Linked DNA regions of Homo sapiens. The protein of the gene in region 3 interacts with the protein of the main gene of each other region in a pairwise test. Each region holds a gene or a part of one and is shown on either strand. Other genes may lie near its edges.

Evidence for each region. The genes of interacting proteins can lie anywhere in the genome.
Region 1: the proteins of PRKAR2B (region 3) and AKAP14 interact in binary tests that used the Homo sapiens proteins (3 or more experiments, as listed by UniProt).
Region 2: the proteins of PRKAR2B (region 3) and AKAP10 interact in a two-hybrid assay, tested with the Homo sapiens proteins (one large-scale study listed by BioGRID).
Region 4: the proteins of PRKAR2B (region 3) and CEP63 interact in a two-hybrid assay, tested with the Homo sapiens proteins (one large-scale study listed by IntAct).

Annotation. Positions count from the first base shown.
Region 1 is NC_000023.11:119,901,856-119,907,055, reverse strand, and holds part of AKAP14 (A-kinase anchor protein 14), read right to left. Parts: intron 3,843-5,200; 5' UTR 3,833-3,842; coding exon 3,664-3,832; intron 3,562-3,663; coding exon 3,470-3,561; coding exon of another isoform or gene 3,461-3,469; exon of another isoform or gene 3,397-3,460; intron 1-3,396. UniProt on the Homo sapiens protein: Binds to type II regulatory subunits of protein kinase A and anchors/targets them.
Region 2 is NC_000017.11:19,956,166-19,961,365, forward strand, and holds part of AKAP10 (A-kinase anchor protein 10, mitochondrial isoform 1 precursor), read right to left. Parts: intron 2,407-5,200; coding exon 1,849-2,406; intron 1-1,848. UniProt on the Homo sapiens protein: Differentially targeted protein that binds to type I and II regulatory subunits of protein kinase A and anchors them to the mitochondria or the plasma membrane.
Region 3 is NC_000007.14:107,155,555-107,160,754, reverse strand, and holds part of PRKAR2B (cAMP-dependent protein kinase type II-beta regulatory subunit), read right to left. Parts: intron 3,772-5,200; coding exon 3,706-3,771; intron 3,570-3,705; coding exon 3,431-3,569; intron 1,307-3,430; coding exon 1,173-1,306; 3' UTR 1-1,172. UniProt on the Homo sapiens protein: Regulatory subunit of the cAMP-dependent protein kinases involved in cAMP signaling in cells. Type II regulatory chains mediate membrane association by binding to anchoring proteins, including the MAP2 kinase.
Region 4 is NC_000003.12:134,534,020-134,539,219, reverse strand, and holds part of CEP63 (centrosomal protein of 63 kDa), read right to left. Parts: intron 2,066-5,200; coding exon 1,952-2,065; intron 1-1,951. UniProt on the Homo sapiens protein: Required for normal spindle assembly.

The DNA.
Region 1 (5,200 bases), on a different chromosome or scaffold from region 3:
CATCTTTTAAATGGGTACACTGATATACCCACACACAGTTTTGTTGTGAGGATTAAACGAGATAATGCATGATGATGTGCACTGCAGTGCTTAACACATAGCAGTACTCAGTAAATGGCAACTCCTAATTTACCATCCCCTGATGTGTAGTGGACCCTGGGAAACTGGCAATAAGCTTGAAAAAGCTCTCCATCAGAAATGCCTCACACTTTGGCCGGGTGCAGTGGCTCACACCTGTAATCCCAACACTTTGGGAGTCCAATGTGGGTGGATCACCTGAGGTCAGGAGTTCGAGACCAGCCTGGCCAAAATGGTGAAACCCCATCTCTACTAAAAATTAAAAATAAAAAATAAATTGGCCTGGCATGGTGGCAGGTGCCTATAATTCCAGCTACTCGGGAGGCTGAGGCAAGAGAATCACTTGAACCCAGGAGGTGGAGGTTGTAGTAGGCCGAGATCGCACCATTGCACTCCAGCCTGGGTGACAAGAGTGAAACTCTGTCTCAAAAAAAAAAAAAAGAAGGGCCGGGCGCGATGGCTCACGCCTGTAATCCCAGCACTTTGGGAGGCCGAGGCAGGCGGATCACAAGGTCAGAAGATCGAGACCATCCTGGCTAACATGGTGAAACCCTGTCTCTACTAAAAATACAAAATATTAGCCAGCACGGTGGCACACGCCTGTAGTCCCAGCTACTCGGGAGGCTGAGATAGGAGAATCACTTGAACCTAGGAGGCGGAGGGTGCAGTGAGCCAAGATCACGCCACTGCACTCCAGCCTGGGCGACAGAGTGAGACTCCGTCTCAAAAAAAAAAAAAAAAAAAAAAAAAAAGAAATGCCAGGCATGCTGCATTAGTGGGGCTGGGAACAGGGCGATTTTACATCATGAGTTAATATAACATGTTTAGCTTTTCAGTCATTTACTTTTTAATTGTCTCTGTCCTCACAACAGCCCTACGAAATAGGTAAGACAAATCCTTTGACCTGGCTCTTCATCTGTGAAGAAATACGGTAATGCAATAATAAATCTGCTCATGTATTCAACATAGAGTTATTGAGCATCTGTGTACCTGACATTGCTAGGGGCTGGGAAGAGAGCAGTCAAGAGAAATCTGCCCTCATGGACCATATGGTCTGGGGGTGGAAGACAGGCAGTAGGACAAGTAAATAGACTCTAGTAGGCAGAAAGAAGTGCGAAGGGAAAAATGAATCAGAGAAGTGGAGAGGGTTGTGATTTTAGATGAAGTGGCCAAGAAAAGCCTCAATGAGCAGGTGATAGTTTTCAACAAAGATCTGAAGGGAGGTAAAGCAGTGAGCCATGGGTATACATCTTAGGGGAGAGGGTTCCAGGCAGAGGGAACAGCAAGAGCAAGGGTCCTGACAGGGGAACATGCCTGGCAGTCGAGGAACGGCAAGGAGGCAAGTGTGGCCGAGGGAAGAAGGTGAGAGGGGGGAAGGAGTGATGGGAGCTGAACCATAAATCAGGAGGGGAAAGGGAACTCAGATCATATTGGGCCTTGTAGACCATTGTCAGGACTTACTTTTGCCTTTTACTCAGAATGACCAGTGGGATTTGCAAGGGAAATTTTTCCTACTTGCTATGTGTTCCATTCTAGTTTGATTCAGGAACCCTGAGTGCAGTAGGCAGGGGCCTTTGCCCAACCCCAAATGGAGAAGTGCTCCACAGCAGGAAGGCTCAAGAATAACTTGCACCATTCATCTTCACTATGCTCAAGATACCCCTCCTAATGAGAACGGTGAGTGGCGTCCGCTGGAGCATAGAAGGCGTGGAGCCAGAAATCCCTGACTTTTCCTCCTTCACACCTGACCAGGCCTTCCTAAGGCCTGGGAAACTGCCCTGAGGGCTGTAGGCTTTGAGGTGCTGGCCTGGGGAACAGAGAGAGCTGGAACTTTTCCCAGGGGTAGGGGAGTTCGCCTCCACCAATTTCAACTGGTCTCTGTTCCACAGAAGCACAATGAGAAGGATTTCAAGCCTTTTTTTTTTTTGAGACAGGGTCTCACTCTGTCACCCAGGCTGAGTGCAGTGGCACAATCACAGCTTACTGCAGCCTCGACCTCCTGGGCTCAAGTGATCCTCCCACCTCAGCCTCCTGAGTAGCTGGAACTATACGTGCATACCACCACGCCCGGCTAATTATTATTATTATTTTTTGAGACGGAGTCTTGCTCTGTCGCCCAGGATTGAGAATGCAGTGGTGTAATCTCAGCTCACTGCAACCTCTGCCTCCTGGGTTCAAGCGATTCTTCTGCCTCAGCCTCCCGAGTAGCTGGGATTACAGGCGCCCAGCACCACGCCTGGCTAATTTTTGTATTTTTAATAGAGACGGGGTTTCACCATATTGGCCAGGCTGGACTTGAACTCCTGACCTTGTGATCTGCCCACTTCGGCCTCCCAAAGTGCTGGGCTTACAGGCGTGAGCCACTATGCCTGGCCTAATTTTTTAGTTTTATAGAGATGGGGTCCCACTATGTTGCCCAGGCTGTCTCAAACTCTTAGGCTCAAATGATTGATTCTCCCGTCTTGGTATTTCAAAGTGCTGGGATTACAGATGTGAACCACTGCGCCTGGCCCAAGCCATTCTCCTTTATTCACTCACCAGTTATGCAAAGTAATCCAGGGCCTTCTCAGCAAAGCTGCCACACGAAGAAGTCAGAGTCAGACACAGGCAGAAGAACAAAGGAATTCATGGGATTGTACATCTTACTATGCAGGCAATATATTCCAAAGCCAAATCAAAAAGTCTTTTGATCCATCTGCATCCCCTCTGTTAACAGGAGCATTCTAAAGTTGGTGGTGGAGGCTGGGTGCAATGGCTCACACCTGTAATCCCAGCACTTTGGGAGGCCAAGGCAGGAGGATCCCTTGAGGCCAGGAGTTCGAGGCCAACCTGAGCAACATAGCACGACCCTGTCTCTACAAAAAAAAATTAAAAATTAGCCAGGTGTGGTGACACGTGCCTGTCTACTTGGAAGGCTGAGGTGGGAAGATCGCTTGAGCCCAGGAGTTCAAAGCTGCAGGGAGCTAGGATCGAGCCCCTGCACTGCAGCCTCGGTGACAGAGTGGGACCCTGTCTCTAAAAAAAATAAACAAAATAATGGTGGTGGAGAACTCCTATTTTGGAGGAGCATCTCCCTCCTTAGGCCACTAGGCCCCCATTTAATGCACCAGCATGGACAAATTGCTTAAGTAGGAAGAGCAGATTTTCCCAGGGAAATGTAAGGTTAGAATGATACAGACACAGGGAAAATGATTGTGATTGTGCATTTCACCTTCAAAGACTATCCCACCTTGATTTTGGAACTGAGATGGAGATGATGTTTACTTATTCTAGTCAGCCCCCTTTGATACCATCTCCTAGATTTTCCAGACTTCAAACTTTTGATCTGCTGAGAGTCTCTTTATTGTTCTTCACACCGGTGTACCATGCTGGAGTGGTCGGCCTAACTTACCGAAAAATATTCGTCAATTTGTTTAAGACCCTTTTCCACAGTGAATTCACCGTGAGTCATCCACTTGATGTTTTTCAAAGGGTTTCGCTCCTCTGCAAAAAAAAGGTGTGAGTTCGTTAGTTGCCAGGTAGTGTGGTGCTATATTTAGACTATATAGACAATTATTTAGGCATCCAAACAAACAGGATCACTACCTTCCACAATCTTAACAGCATAATTGATGACATCCTCAACCAGAGCTAGAGCTACTTGAGTCAATTCATCCTCGTAGTTCTTGTCTTGTGTATTCGGCATTGTTTGGCTTGCGGCTTTGTTATCCTCATCCATTGCTTTCTGGCTTGTTGAATTTTGAGTCTCACTCATTTTCTTTTTCCTGGGGAAAAAAAGAAGTTACTGTGTGCCTGTGTGTGTACACACATGTGAACGCACTCATATAAGTACAGATCATCTCTTGAAGAATCACAAGAGACAGGAAGCAGTTATTGCCTCTAGGGAGGGGATTAGGGGTTTAAGGGTAGGAGTCAGACCTGTGCCTGGCTGCTGCTATCTACTTTTCCTGAAAACCAAGGATTCTCACATTCTCAAAATCATAATGAGGCCCGGCGCGGTGGCTCACGCCTGTAATCCCAGCCCTTTGAGAGCCCGAGGCGGGCGGATCACCTGAGGTCAGGAGTTCAAGACCAGCCTGACCAACATGGTGAAACCCCGTCTCTACTAAAAATGCAAAATTTGCCGGGTGTGGTGGCGGGCGCCTGTAATCCCAGCTACTTGGGAGGCTGAGGCAGGACAATTGCTTGAACCTGGGAGGTGGAGGTTGCAGTGAGCCAAGATCGCGCCATTGCACTCCAGCCTGGGCAACAAGAGCAAAACTCCATCTCAAAAACAAAACAAAAAACAAAAAAAACACCATAATGACTTAAATCAAAATGTAGTAGAAAAAAAGTAGCACTTCTTTGGAGTGCCTAGCAATATTGATTCCAAGTTGAATCTTTGATAAGAAACCCAATCCCTGCTAGGAGCAACTGAGGGCACCTGGCTCTTTTAAAATGATGTTAAAATGAAGTGGGTGTGGTGGCATGTGCCTGTAATCTCAGCTATTCAGGAGGCTGAAGCAGGGGGACAGTTTGAGGCTATGAGTTTGAAACCAGCCTGGGCAACATAGTGAGATCTCCCCACTCCCCAACCTGTCTTAACTTTTAAAAAGAAATATAAAGGCCCGGCGCGGTGGCTCACGCCTGTAATCCCAGCACTTTGGGAGCCTGAGGCAGGCATATCACGAGGTCAGGAGTTGAAGACCACTCTGGCCAACATGGTGAAACCTCGTCTCTACTAAAAATACAAAAATTAGCTGGGCATGGTGGCTCATGCCTGTAATCCCAGCTACACAGGAGGCTGAGGCAGGAGAATTGCTTGAACCGGGACCCAGGAGGCAGAGGTTGCTGTGAGCCGAGATCGCACCACTGCACTCCAGCCTTCCAGCCTGGGCTACAGAGGGAGACTACATCTCAAAAAAAAAAAAAAAGTATAAAGACAGTGTTTTGTTTTTTGTTTGTTTGTTTGTTTGTTTGAGTCAGAGTTTTGTTCTTGTTGCCCAGGCTGGAGAGCAATGGCGCTATCTCGGCTCACCGCAACCTCCGCCTCCCGGGAGAATCCAGGTTCAAGTGATTCTCCTGCTTCAGCCTCCCGAGTAGCTGGGATTGGAGGCATGCGCCACCACGCCCGGCTAATTTT
Region 2 (5,200 bases), on a different chromosome or scaffold from region 3:
ACAGGATCAGTACGAGCACCCAAGACAAAAATTCAGTTTTAAGTGGTACCAGAAGGGTAGTGACCCAGGCCCCAGGTGCATGGCAAAAGAAAATGCAAAACACCTGAAGTAACTTAATTTATACAGAGTACACAGAGAATTCCCACAGACAAAAGTCCAAGAAACATGTTCACGGCCAAAAATCACTAAAATCACAAGCCACCAACAGTCTGAATCCGAAGAAACAAAGAAATGCTGAGTCAGGTCCACAAAAAACTGTAGATAGCAGAATTATCAGACAAATATACATTTAATAAAACTAAATAAATAAAAGATGGGATCAAAAGTGGGAATGAAGGGTGAAAGGAATAAGAAACTACAAAAAATGATCCATAGAAATAAAAAATTCAATAACTTTTTTTCTTTGTTTGAGCTGGGGTCTTGCTGTGTTGCCCAGGTTGGTCTCAAAACTCCTGGGCTCAAGCAATCTTCTCACCTTAAGCTTCCTGAGTAGCTGGGAGTACAAGTGTGTGCCACTTCTCCCAGCTTACAGTAACTTTGCGATGAAAATAACATGCCGTCAGGTGTGGTGATTCATGCCTGTAATCCCAGCACTTTGGGAGGCCGAGGCAGGTGGGTCACTTGAGGTCAGGAGTTCAAGATCAGCCTGACCAACATGGTGAAACCCCGTCTCTACTAAAATATAAAAATTAGCCAGGAGTGGTGGCGGGCGCCTGTAATCCCAGCTCCTCGGGAGCCTGGTTGAGGGAAGGAAGGAGGGAGGGAGGGAGGAAGGAAATAACATGCTGAAAACTTGATTCAGTAGCAGATTAGACCTCATTTTAGTTCACTGAGAATGAGTGAACTAAAAGATCTGAAGAAATCACTTAGCCCTTTAAGACACAAAGAACATTTAAGATGAAAAAGAACATGAAGGCTGTCTAATCAAAATCCCAGGTGATAATTAAGAGTATATAATTTCTAAACTAATAGAGAAGAAAAAAAAACAGGTGCTCTTGTCAAAATGCTTCTAGGTCCACATTTACTGTACAACCTAGAGGAAGTTACCTAACCTTTCTAAGCCCTGGTTTTCTCATGTGTAAATAAGATAATCAGTCCGGGCGCGGTGGCTCATGCCTGTAATCCCAGCACTTTGGGAGGCCGAGGCAGGCGGATCACAAAGTCAGGAGATCGAGACCATCCTGGCGAACATGGTGAAACCCCGTCTCTACTAAAAATACAAAAAAATTAGCCGGGTGTGGTGGCAGGCGCCTGTAGTCCCAGCTATTTGGGAGGCTGAGGCAGGAGAATGGCATGAACCCGGAGGTTGCAGTGAGCCGAGACCGCGCCATTGCACTCCAGCCTGGGCGACAGAGCAAGACTCCATCTCAAAAAAAAAAAGATAATCATGCCTACTACCTGCACAAAGGTCTTGTGACTAATAAATAAAATCCAAATATACACTAAGCACTGAACTTAATAAATGTCACTTATTGGCAATTTTTAAAAATTTTTTAAAAATTTTATCTGCAAAGTGCAGTAAAATATTAATAAAATTAAGACCGAGGGAGGAAATAAGGCTATGTGGATAATGGTTTGATGTCAAAATCAGTGGAGGGGAAAAGTAGGACATTTGACCCTTCATTTACTAATTCTGATAACACACTTCTTAGAAGGTCCAGTCACTCCTGCTCCTTTTCCATACACTGATCTGACTCTACTACACTCTCCAAATTCTCCCAAATTTACAAGTAGTTAGAGGAGAAAAAAAATATTCCAATCATTTTATTCCTCATCTGAAGTTCTGCTTAGTAAATTAAAAAAAGAAAGTGAGACACATATGTACACACAAGAAAATCACATACTCACTTTTCATTAGTTTTCCTGACAATTCTTTTAGTGGAGAAGCGGGACTATTTCTACTGGCTACTGTAAGTGTAGAGGAAGATTCTTGGGTTTCCATGGAAACTTGGTGAGTTCCTGCTCTGGCCATTTCAAGACGGAGAGAATGGGCACTGTCACATTCCTGGGAAAGCAGCAAGTGATTCTGAGTGCTGTTAGTTCTATTATTCAGGTCAATTCCTTCTGAATGAGTCATAAACAACTGTGCTGAGCCAGAATCCTCCAATCTCTTATCAAGAGAATCAGTTAAAAAAGACGCTGTAGTTTCATGCTTTTTAGATGGAGAGACAGGCTCAGCCAGTGAGCTCTGCTTCACTGTGTTTAGACTGTGTGCTCTTATTCGCGACCAAGTTGTTGAATGAAAACTTTCAGCCTCTAACCAAAATTTCACCAAATGCTCCATTCGCCGAAGTTCCATGAATTGAATGAAGTAAGGGAGGACAATAGTGTCGTGCAAGACTTGTTCAAGGGTCTTAGAAAGGCTTGATTTGGTCTCTTGAGTCTGGTAGTCCAGACAAGATCTGCCTAAAAGATAGAAGCAAAAGAATTAGCAGTTCAGCAACAAATAATTTCAGATTGACAGATTAGTCAATCACTTTTAGCAACAACTGGTACCAGAGACCTTGAATAAAGTTTACTTCCTAGCAACTAAAGTAAATAAAAAAACTACAAATACTATGCTTTTGGTTTCTAAACAAAGTACAATCGTCCAAAACTTGCCTAAATTATTAAAAAGTTATTTGTTACTCAATAATTCTCATATCTCTTTTAATGGCAATTCAGACCATGTAAATTCTTTTTTTTTTTTTTTTTTTTTTTTTTGAGACTTTTCACTCTTGTTGCCTAGGCTGGAGAGCAATGGCGCGATCTCGGCTCAATGCAACCAACCTCCACCTCCCGGGTTCAAGCGATTCTCTTGACTCAGCCTCCTAAGTAGCTGGGATTACAGGCACCCGCCACCACGCTGAGCTAGTTTTTGTACTTTTAGTAGAGATTCGGTTTCACCATGTTGGTCAGGATGGTCTCAAACTCCTGACCTTCGGCAATCCACCCACCTCGGCCTCCCAAAGTGCTGGGATTGCAGGCGTGAGCCACTGCGCCCAGCCCAGACTACATAAATTCTTAAGAAAAAAAACTTATGATACTAGTTCCAAAGGGGCCAATAAAAATATTAAAAACTATACTCAACCTCATTAAAAATCCCAGAAAAGCAAATTAACATAAAATGCATTTTTGTCTGTCAAATTAGATTTTTTTCAAAAATTATTAAGCAGTAACAAGGGCACAGGAAAATAGGCAACACTCTCATTCGCTGGTCATGAGGATGTAAACTGGCAAAACCTTTTTGGAGGAGCATTCAGGAACAGATAGCAAAGTCTTAGCAAACTGCATTATTTTCAGTCCAGTAATTCCACTTGTAGGCACTTATCCTGAGGGAAAATTGTGGATATATCTACAAAGATGTTATGAACTCAGCATTATTCATTCATAGTAGGTTAAAGAGTAGCTTTGAGATCGTACCTTGAAAAATGAAACTAAACTTAATAAAAAATCATTTATCTTATATTTAACTAAATTTAAATTATAACCACAAGCTAATTGTTAGGAAAGACAAAAAATTTTTTTAAAAATTGGCTTTCATAGCATGATCATAAAGATGGGCATTCTTATAAAACTGACTGAGGGTTTCATCAATTTGTCAAAAGAGTTCTTCTTAATCCATTGATATTCAAATCATTTTTTTGAAGCACGTCGTGTCTTCATCCTCAGTCTTACTGTCAGTGTCAACTAGTTCATCTTTGTCAACATCACAAACTTGAGGAAATTCTGATCTTCTGTGAGGTTTACAATTTCTTTTAATTAAATTCTATGAGATAATGCTAGATTCACATGAAGTTCTAAGATACAATACTGAAAGGGCCAGGCATGGTCGCTCACGCCTGTAATTCCAGTACTTTAGGAGGCTGGGGCAGGCGGATCACTAGAGCCCAGGAGTTCAAGACCGGCCTGGGGAACATAGTGAAACCCCATCTCTAAAAAAATAATAATACCTAGAGATCCCTTGTACACTTTAGTTTCTCCCATGGTAACATCTTGCAAAGCTATAGTACAATATCACTCTAAGATACTGACAGTGATACAACACTCTAACTTGTTCAGATTTCCCCAGTTTTATCTATACTCATTCTTGTTTTTAGTTCTTTGTAATTTTATCACATTGAGATTTCTGCATCCACTGCCAAGATACAACTTCAACATCACAAAGATCCCTCATGTTGCACTTTTATAACTACACCCACTTACCCCTCTCACCTCCCTGTCTCTAACATCTGGCAAACACTAATCTTTTCATTTCTCTTAATTTCTCTATTTCAAGAATATTATCCAAACGGAATCATACTATATGTAGTCTTTAGGGACTGGTTTTTGTCTGACAGCATAATTCCCTTGATATTCATCCAGGTGGTTAAATGTATCAACAGTTTGTTCCTTTTTATTGCTGAATGGTATTCCATGGTATGAATGAACCAGTTCATTCACCTGCTGAAGAACATCCAGTTTTTCAATATTAAGCTGCTATGAACATTTGTGCACAGGTTTTTATTGGAAGGTAAGTTTTCATTTATCTGGGATAAATACAGAGTGCAACTGCTAGGTCATATGGTAATTGCATGTTTCACGTCATAAGAAACCACCAGCCAGGGATGACGGCTCATGCCTGTAATCCCAGCACTTTGGGAGGCCGAGGCGGGCTGATCACCTGAGGTCAGGAGTTCAAAACCAGCCTGACCAACATGGTGAAACCCCATATCTACTAAATATACAAAAATCAGCCAGGCATTATGGCAGGCACCTGTCATCCCAGCTACTCAGGAGGCTGAGGCAGGAGAATAGCTTGAACCTGGGAGGCGGAGGTTGCAGTGAGCCAAAAATTGGGCCACTGCACTCCAGCCTGTGAGACTCCGTCTACAAATAAATAAACAAACAAACAAACAAACAAACAAACTGCCTAGGCCAGGCACAGTAGCTCACGCCCGTAATCCCAGCACTTTGGGAGGCCTACGCAAGTGGATCGCTTGATTCCAGGAGTTTGAGACCAGCCTGGGAAACATGGCGAAACCCCGTCTCTACAAAAAAAAAAAAAAAAAATACAAAAATTAGCCAGGCGTGGTGGTGCATGCCTATAGTCCCAGCTACTCAGGAGACTGAGGGAGGATCACCTGAACCTGAGGAGGGTGAGGCTGCAGTGAGTTGTAATCACGCCACTGTACTCCAGCCTGCGCAACAGAGTGAGACCCTGTCTCAAAAAGAAAAAAAA
Region 3 (5,200 bases):
GCCTAATGGTATATATGGTAAGGTCAGAAATTCATTTTGTCTTTATATAGGGTTATGCTCATAAAAATTTGTTTCTATTCCTCTAGAGGATGTTTTTAAGAATTAAAAAAACCAAACAAACCCATATTGGCTGCTGATCAATGAGATTGTGGGTTGGCAACCATCCTAAGAAAGAACGGAAACCCAAGGGAACAGATGTCTACATAGGACTGTATTATGCAGGCCTAGTGAAGAACAAAGAAATAAACTGTGGGCATGCTGATAAGGATCCCACATTATTTTTGGGATAGGAGAGATTTTTTAGGTGTAAAATCTTAAAGAATACAAAAAATGTCGGATCTTAAGTTTAAATCACTTTTTAAAAAAACAAAACTTTGTGACATTAAATGTCAAGATCAAATTTTTAAAGACATAGAATACAGAGAATTGCAAAATAAAAAAAAGCAGATATATGCTTGATGAGGGAAAAATGCATTAATGATCTCTCATCTAAAACACTGTTTTCCTTATTATCATAATGACTAAATTGCCTGTCCATAAAACCACTGGAATATGTATGTTACTGACATTATGCCAACAAAGTCAAAATGTACTTTATTGCAAAAATATAAAAAGTTTTAAAACTGCATATGATATTTTATACCATTTCACCAATAGGCCAAGGCCAGCACATAACTTATCAAGCTAGAAAACTTTAAAACAAAAATGATTAAAATTTTACTGTGTTTAATGAGTTATAAAAAAAAGTGATGCCATGCTGTGTAGCATGTTTAATTGCCAAGTGCCCTCTTACATGGGGATAGTCACTAATATGATTATCAGTCTGAATAAGTAAAACACATATAGCCTATGATAACATCCTTTAATTATCTTCTTAAACACAGATACTTTCTATATATTACAATCATTTTAATAAACCTTTCAGTCATAATTTTGTGGAGTACAAAGTCATTTTATCAGTATGTTGATTTTTTTATGAACTACTCTTTAGAAAGTGATGTTAAAGCCTATTGACTATTAAATCACTACTGTTTATTGATACGTTGTAAATGTAAAAAAAGGAAAAAACCTGAAATCACAGAAAATGCTTGGCATCTACACAAACACATTCTCAGTGGACTAACCACTACTGTGTAATTTTGTCACTACAGGTCTTGCTCCATACTTTTGCTTCATGCAGTGGGTTCAACAATATCCATGTTCGTTCCAAACAGGGCAACTAACTGTTCTTCATAGGTAGCGATGTTCCTTTTCATAATTTCCATGCAAGGTCCCAGAAGCCTTTCAAATGCTTGCACATCCATTGCTGAGAAAAGAGAAGATTTTTTTTTAAATAACATTCTTTGCAAATCTGCAGAATTTCTAAGTCATTTACAATACCGACTCCATATATATCAATAGTGCAATGATATTTTAGGTAAATACTATAAAATACAAGAAAAAGCATAATGATAAAAATGTTCCACTTGAAAAAGGAAGCAGCCAGGGCCACGCTCTTGGACCACACTCTGCAGTCCCTCGGCAATATGATGAGCAATGCTAAGTTGGTGGGAGGTTCCTGGTCCAAGCTGAGAAAAGAATGAGGGACTATCATGGAAAGACCTTAGAATTTTAAAAAATAAATGTGCTGTCTCCACCTTAGCAATGTGAACTCCTCAAGGGTGGCACAAGAGTGTTTTCTATCCTGTGTTCCCTTCTCAGGGTTTAAAATGCCATGTTGTGAAGGCCAAGTGTTAACCTTTTGTAAGTTTTGCTGCCATACTATGTCTATGCAATCCAAAAATGGCAGCTGACATAATGCTTTTGTTTACTTCTATAAGTACATGCTAGAAATCACTTTGCTTGCCTGTCTCCTGGATTTTAAAACTGGATTTATAATATATAAATAGAAAATATGATCATACTCTATACATAAAAGTACAAATTAAAATAGATCTTCTTTGCCTTTTACACTAAAGATAAAAAGATAAAAAAGGCAATGTTTACAAGAATAGGGTGAATGGGCATTATGGCACTGCTAGTAGTGTACAAATACAAGTAATCTGGCAATATGTGTCAAAAGTTAATTTTTTAAAAACCCACTCCTGAAAACCATTTCTAAGGAAAACTCCTATAATACAGAAAAGTCTTCTATGCACAAAAAATTGCTCCCCACAAAAAAGTTGGAGCCAAAACCTTCGAAGTATTTACCACTAAGGAATGATTAATTTATCGTGTATATATTTACCTAAAAGAATTTTAAAATTTGGTGTAATAAAATAAGAACATTCCTAAGCGATAATGAACTTTAAAAGTTGTTTGGAAAACTGTTTAACAACTGGAAGCCCACACAAATAAAAAGGACAAGAAGGAATTATAATAGCAGAAATCACTGAGTGGCGGTGTTATGTTTTTTCTACATTTTCTGTATTTCTCAGGTTTTCTTTGATGTGAGTATAATAATCTATTATTGAAAAAAAATTAACAGACTTTCACTCACTCACCTTTACTCTTTCTAATAGACTTTCACTCACTCACCTTTACTGTAATAGACTTTCACTCACTCACCTTTACTATTTCTAATAGACTTTCACTCACTCACCTTTACTCTTTCTAATAGCCCTACTTAGGGAAATTACCTGCCAGTTTCTAATCGTCTTCTCTTCCATCCAAATTTAACACTTGATTAATATTATACTTATTTAAACCCTTTTAAAGAATGACTTCTCTAAGAAGTTAATTCTAAGGATCCTTGCAAATCTTAAAAACATTAAGTTTATGCTATTGAATTATGGATGAAAAGCACAGAGAGGGTAATAACTGTGAGATCAATTTTCTTAAAATACCCTCCATATTGCCACCTTCTAAACTGTATTTTCTTATCAAAGTAAGTGATTTCTCAGATATATAATCTCAGATATATACAGATGCCTGCACCTGAAGATGACATTTCTGCCAAGCTACTCTGGTAAAATAGTAATAACAACTGAACAGCAAAGAACATTTGACTGTGCTTTGACAAACCTGAACCTTTGTGTCCCAATACTGTAATGAGTAAGGATTCTCACAACATCTCAGCATTCCCCGCAGATCTTAATAACGGACTTTATAAAAATAGTACTTTAGCCTTCTCTTTTGAGGAACATAGCACATGTTGCTTATTTGAGAGATTCCATATAAAACGTGGTACTTGGAACTCTTATTTTAATGACTAATATGGGATGTTATTTCATATATACACAAGAAGAGCAAAATGTATCTGGATGTAAAAATTTCGAAGAAAAAATGGCTTCCACAAATTGATTTTATAAGGCAATGAGTCCTAATCTTGTTACCTTTTGTGGGGACCACAAAACCTGTGAACCCAATAAAATGATTCACTCAACATGAATACATAAAATGCAGACATAAGTTCAACCAGCAGAAGCACGCCCACTGTTGCAATCCCTACCTAAACATTTGACAGTCCCAATGGCGTGGGCAGAAGCTGCTCGAGGTTTGTTAGTTACCAGGGCAAGCTCTCCAAAGTACTGTCCCCGCGAGCATCGAGCGATTTCTACTGCACCATTCTCTTCCACTTCTGATTTACCCTGACAAGGCAATTAAAAAGATGAGCTTTTCCTCAGCTTATGAAAAATAAAATTAACCTCAGTCTAAACATCAAAAAGTAGATCTGTTGTGTTCCTTGCTAACAGTATGTGGGTTCTGAGGACTTAGAATGCTTACCTTTCTTTTCATAGTAATTTTCACTTCTCCAGATTCTACAATGAAAAAAGAATCAGCCGAATCTCCCTATTGGAATCAATAACAAAAACAGACGGTGAAAATGCAAATTAATTGACAACAATCTTGTTACCTTTCATATCCCTAAAATTGATCCAACCCCAAAGTACACATATTCACCTGAAAAGTGAAATCCTAAGGGAACAAGCTGTCTCGGTTTCTAAATCAAGAGGTTTTTTTTTTTTTTGAGACGGAGTCTCACTCTGTTGCCCAGACTGGAATGCAGTGGCGCGATCTCGGCTCACTACAAGCTCCACCTCCCGGGTTCACACCATTCTCCTGCCTCAGCCTCCTGGGTGGCTGGGACTACAGGCGTCTGCCACCACGCCCGGCTAATTTATTTGTATTTTTAGTAGAGACGGGGTTTCAACGTGTTAGCCAGGATGGTCTTGATCTCCTGACCTCGAGATCTGCCTGCGTCGGCCTCCCAAAGTGCTGGGATTACAGGCGTGAGCCACCGAGCCCGGCCCTAAATGAAGAGGTTTTGATGGACAATTATGTAGTAATGATTTCATTTGTAAAATTATTTGAAATAATACTTTCTTTTTCCCCCCCAAGATGGAGTCTCGCTCTGTCACCCAGGCTGGAGTGCAGTGGTGCAATCTCAGCTCACTGCAGCCTCCACCTCCTGGATTCAGGCGACTCTCCCACCTCACCCTCCCAAGTAGCTGGGATTACAGGCATGTGCTACCACACCCAGCTAATTTTTTTTTCCTTTTTTTAAAATTTTACTTTAAATCAGGGATACATGTGGAGAACATGCAGGTTTGTTACACAGGTATACATGTGCCATGGAGGTTTGCTATACCTATCAACCTGTCTGGTTTTAAGCCCCGCATGCATTAGGTATCTGTCCTAATACTCTCCCTACCTTCACTCCCCACCCCCTGACAGGCCCCGGTGTGTGATGTTCCCCTCCCTGTGTCCATGTGTTCTTATTGTTCAACTCCCACTTATGAGTGAGAACATTCGGTGTTTAGTTTTCTACTCCTGTGTTAGTCTGCTGAGAATGATGGCTTCCAGCTTCATCCATGTCCTGCAAAGGACATTATCTCATTCTTTTTTATGGCTGCATAGTACTCCATGGTATATATGTACCACGTTTTCTTTATCCAGTCTATCACTGATGGGCATTTGGGTTGGTTCCATGTCTTTGTTATTGTAAATAGTGCTGCAATAAACATATGTGTGCATGTGTCTTTATAGCAGAATGATTTATATTCCTTTGGGTATATACCCAGTAATGGGTTTTCTGGGTCAAATGGTATTTCTGCCATTAAAAAGTGGGCAAAGGATATGAACGGACACTTCTCAAAAGAATCAAAAGAAGATATTTATGCAGCCAAAAAAAAAATGAAAAAAAGATCATTACTGATCATTAGAGAAATGCAAATCAAAACCATAATGAGAAACCATCTCACGCCAGTCAGAATGGCAA
Region 4 (5,200 bases), on a different chromosome or scaffold from region 3:
AGATGATGACAACTATTAATGCTACTTAATGGATATAGATAAGTTTATTTAGATGTTTAAAAAAATGATGATCATACAGCACTGGTATATACTGAATCACTGAAAGATTTAATTTTATTTAGTTTGCTAAGGGAGAAGGATAAATACATTTATATGTAACATTTTTATTAAACAATCAGACAGTTTTAGGTTAAACAAAACTATCAGAAGAATTAATTCAAACACCCTTAGTAGGAAAAACAAATGTTGGCTGTTGAAAGGCTTCTTACCCTAGCCCTAGCTGAATTACAGTAAGTAAAAATCCCATTTTTACTAATAATGAAGTTTTAATTACATAGAGTCAATAATCACAACAGTAATATGAAATAGGATAACAGTAATTTGAAGAGAGAATCTATAATCAATAATACTCCATGGATAAATAATTGAGAACTGTAAAAATTAAGACTCAATTTGCTTTTTTGTCAATCTGAAGGCTACAACTAGAATATAACAATATCTTGGTCAAGTGTGGTGGCTCACACCTGTAATCCCAGCACTTTAGGAGGCCAAGGTGGAAGGATTGCTGGAGCCCAGGAATTCAAGATCAGCCTGAGCAATGCAGCAAGACCTCATCTCAAGAAAACCAAAAAAAATTTTTTGTTGTTAAAAAAATATATATATACATATATATATATATATATATACACACACACACAATTTCTTATTAGGTCTCTATGGTGCTTTGGCATTCAAGTCAAAAAAACTGGTCCAGACATCTCAGGATTTCACTGGTCTGTCTGGCTGCACAGCTTGCTGTGGCCTAGAAAATAAATTTCTTCCTTGCAATTGTTGTGGACTTTTCCTACCATTTTGAATGAAGTCACTCACAGCAGAGCCACAGCCACTGTCGGTAGTTTATCAGACTGCTGATATTTCAGGGAGACGAACAAAAAGTTAATGCATTATTGAGACTTAAAATAGCAAATAAATGCAGATTATTTTTAAAAACCCAAAAAGCCAAAAAAAAAAAAAAAAAAAACCCTCCCTTCTAGCTATTTCAACTTACCCAGGCTGTTCCCTCATTCTATAAAACTAAGATAACTACCAACCTTGACAGATTATCATAATATTAAACAGAGAACACATACAAGAAGCACTGGGTCAATGTCTAGCACATAACAGATGATCACAAATTTTTTTAGTTTCCTTTATGTTCTTGATTCTAACTGAAAAAGGAATGAGCTGAATATGTTCTTACAAGACATATTCCTAAAGTAGGTGTCTGTTTTTTGGTTTTGCTTAAGCCATTACAAGAAAAGTTTCTATCAATGTTCTAAAATAAGTGTTTTTGTTACCACAAAGACACCACTTTTAGTTGGTGTGCACACCATTGCCATGTGACTCTCTCCGTATCTGTCCGCATAGGCAGACTAACTGAAGCTCCCTAGCTGAGACACTTCGGCCAAGATACCCCAGTGACCATAGGGATGGAGCAAGGCACAGACTATAGTAGAGCTGAGAGACCCAACAAGAGACAGAAAGACATGGAAAAGGAGACAGAGGGAGGAATGGGACTGTGGTAGGGAAGAAAGAGAGGGGAGGAAGAGAGGGCGACAAAGCTAGGGACCAAGATGAGGAGAGTGAACATGGATGCAAGCATAGAGTGAGCCTGAGTAAGCAAGACAATGACAGAGAGTGGGTGAGCAAGTCAGAAACAAGCAAGGAGGCAAAGCAGCAAGCGGGCACAAGGACATGAGCCTGGACAGGAGAGTGAATGCACGCATGTGTGAGGGCAGGCGGGAAGAAGGAGCTGAGTCTAGATGCTGAGGAGAGGCTTCCTAAACAAGAGAGCAGGGTTCGTGGAGAGAAGCTGAAAGAGGCTAAATGGTACTAGGACACTGCATTAAGGTAGTTCAAACTTGATCAAAACCTATCTGCTTCTCATTATTTTAAAAAGTCTTAGGCCTACCTGAATTATCTCTGATTGTTCAGCCAGAGCCTTCCTTTGTGCCTCCAGTGAAGATACCTGTTGCTGATAAATCAAGCGTTGCTTCTCCCAGTCCAGCGATTTCTGACGGAATTCCTGAGGAGGCAATTAGAGTACTTAATTTCTGAGTGCTTCTCCTCACTGTCACTACTTCCCAGACTCCCTTTAACTTTAATTTCTCCCCATGTCCCTGGGTACGCTTGCACCTTTCTCCACAGCGGGAGCCCCATTACTCACTCAGCTAACAGAGCTGGAGAGTAATACTAACTTCCTCACATACTGTGCCTCTGGATATCTGTCTTTCTAAATTTAACACCCTGATGGTGAGGAGTATGACACGCAGATGTTAAGCACTGGATTCAGATGTTTTTCACTGATTTGCTGCCACCTAAGGGTTGTTATAATTTTCTAGTGAATTTTCAGAAAACTGATGCTAAGATAACTAAAATTTTAAAGTATGATTACAGATATCCCTCGCTATCCAAATTCTTGATATCCAGACCCAGGAATTGAACAGATTAAATTTTCAGATAAGTCCCTTGGTAACCCAAATCTTACTTCCCAGTATCTAAAACTAAGGAACCAAGTAGATTCAGATAACACAATATCCTTTGATATCCAAATTTGTATTATCTCAACAGAGGAACTGCAAAAGTTTGAATAACAAAGAAAATCTGTACCAAATTTTAACAAATATTTGTAACCCAAAGCCAAACAGTTCAAAATTAATGATGGATCAATAGTAACATCAAATTGCATGATCAAGAAAGTGATTTCAATATTTATGAAAATGGGGCAAATCAAAGGGAAAGGAAACTCAATCTTTCTATCACTGTCTTCCAGGACCCTCAACTCCAGAAGTCTCAGGCTCCTTAAGATAAGTGTTGTTAACCAAATTTCTGATATTCATTCATTCATTCAATCATTCTACTATATATGCCAGGTACTGCTTTAGGAGTCAGGGATACAATACTTAACAAAACAAACAAAAACCCTAGTCCTACTCAACTGGGGGCAACAGATGACACATTTCTTGTATGGTATAGCAGATGGTAATACACGTTTTGGAGAAAACAGAGCATGAAGTCTTCACAGTTGGGGTTGTAATTTTTAAAAGGGATGGCCAGACTGAGTGAAAAACATTTAAGTAAACACCTAGGGAGATGAGGGTGAAGTTACAATATTCTGGGTGGAAAGAATAGCCTTGAAATAAGAGCATCCTGGTGTGTTTAAGGGTGAGAAAGGAAATTGGTGTGGCTGGAATAAAGTGAATGAAAGGGAAAGTAGGAGAAGACAAGGTAAGAGAGATAACTGGGAATGAGACCACGTAGGCCATTAGGATAACAGATTTTTAAGAGAAGCTGCTGGAAGGTTTTTGTATAGGAAGTGATATAATTTGACTTACATTACAGCAGAATCATTCTGGCTATCATGCTGAGAAAAGAGAAGTCTAGGATGACTCCGAGGTTTTAGGTTGAGCAAATTGAGTTGTTATCAACTAAAACATGAATCAGTGTTGGGGAGATGAGGAAGAGAAAGACAGGACCTTTAGCTTGGACATGTTAAGTTTGACACATTTTAGACATCATAGTGGAGATAGGAAACAGGCAGTTGAAAGTTATTCTGTCATGAAGAGGCGAGGTCTTGGCTAGATATATAAATTTAGGAATTGTCAGCATATACACAGTGTTAAAGCTATGAAATTCAATGGGATCAATAGGGGAGTGAGCGTAGATAGGAAAAAAAAAAAGGAAAGGAAAGGTCCAATGACATGACCCTAGGTGGTTAAGGAATAATGGAGACTGAGGAGTGATGAACAAGGAAAAAATGAGAGAAATGTGGTTTTTCTCAAGCCAAGTCAAGAAAGTGGTTAAGGAGTTGGGAGAGACCAGCTCTCCTACAAAGCTGTAGGTAGGATGAGGAAGATAAGGACCAGCCCACAGGCTTTGGGAATGTGGAAGTCACTGGTGACCTCTATGTGAACAGCTTCTGCAGTGTGAGGGGACAAAAGCCTTATTGAGTGGGTACAAGAACAATGAGACAAGAGGAACTGGAGACAAGTATAGATGACTGAAGTAATTTTTTAGTTATAAAATGGAAGAAATAAAATGGGGCAGAGGAGGAAGAGACGGGTCAAGAGAGGATATTTAAGAGGAGGGAAATTTGGATGCTGGTAAAAAATATCCAGTAGAGAAAAAAAATTAAGGGTGCAGAAAAGAGAAGGTGAACTGCTAAGGTAATGCCTTGGGTAGAAAAGGGGGAGGGCATGCGTAGTTCCTCCAGGAAGGAAGGCAGGGTACATGGGCACAGATGCAGATAGGTGGGTGGACACAAGAGTTGGAAGTCTATAAACAGAAAGGAAGATATAACCCAAAGGTGAGGATGTGGGGAAAGGTGTTGAGAGTTTGAGGAGAAAAGCAGAAGTCTGAAATACTCATTGTGGAAAGTAGGAGATGAGAGGAAATACAGTATGATTCCAGGTAGCATTAGGACCCATTTGAGGTTAGTGACCATGAATTTAAAGTGAGAACAGACAGTATGATTAGGTTTTTCTCTAGCCACGTTCAGCGATACATGACAGGTAGAGAGTGGGCAGAAAGGTGGACTTAAGCAGAACTGTGATTCTGCCAAGCAAATATGAGGAAGCAAGAGAGGAGCACAGGAGATGAAGGGGAAAGTAAAAAATGTAATGACAGAATTTAAAAGCTGGCTAAGGACCGATAAGTGAGAACACCAAGTAGATAATGGAGCAGTAAAAAGGTGGCAGAATTTAATCATTTTAAGGGATGGTTAATGATTACTGAGAGTCAAAGGACTAGAGAGAGTTAGCTGAAAAGATAGGGATTGGTAGTCTGATAATTGAATGCTTGAAAATGAGATTCTAGAGGGGTGGCATATATTGGTAATGACAAGAGCTAAGGAATGGCAGTGGGAATAAGTAGATGAGACACAAAGATAATCAAACTATCTATGGAGGAAAGAAAGCCAAGAAACTGTAAGGTCAGAGTATTATAAGCATCATCTCTCCAGATCCTAAGATCCTCAAAGTTATGATAAGAGTAATGTCAGAGAGAATTGACAGTGAGCTGGGTGCTGAAATCAATGAGCCAAGGAAATAACCCAGAGGTCAGACGATGACTATTTTGGTTGTTATGTTCATTGGCTGGCAGTATAGGCTGGTAACATGAAAATCAAAGATGGGGTTTTTGAGGTAGAAAGAAAAGAGAATAG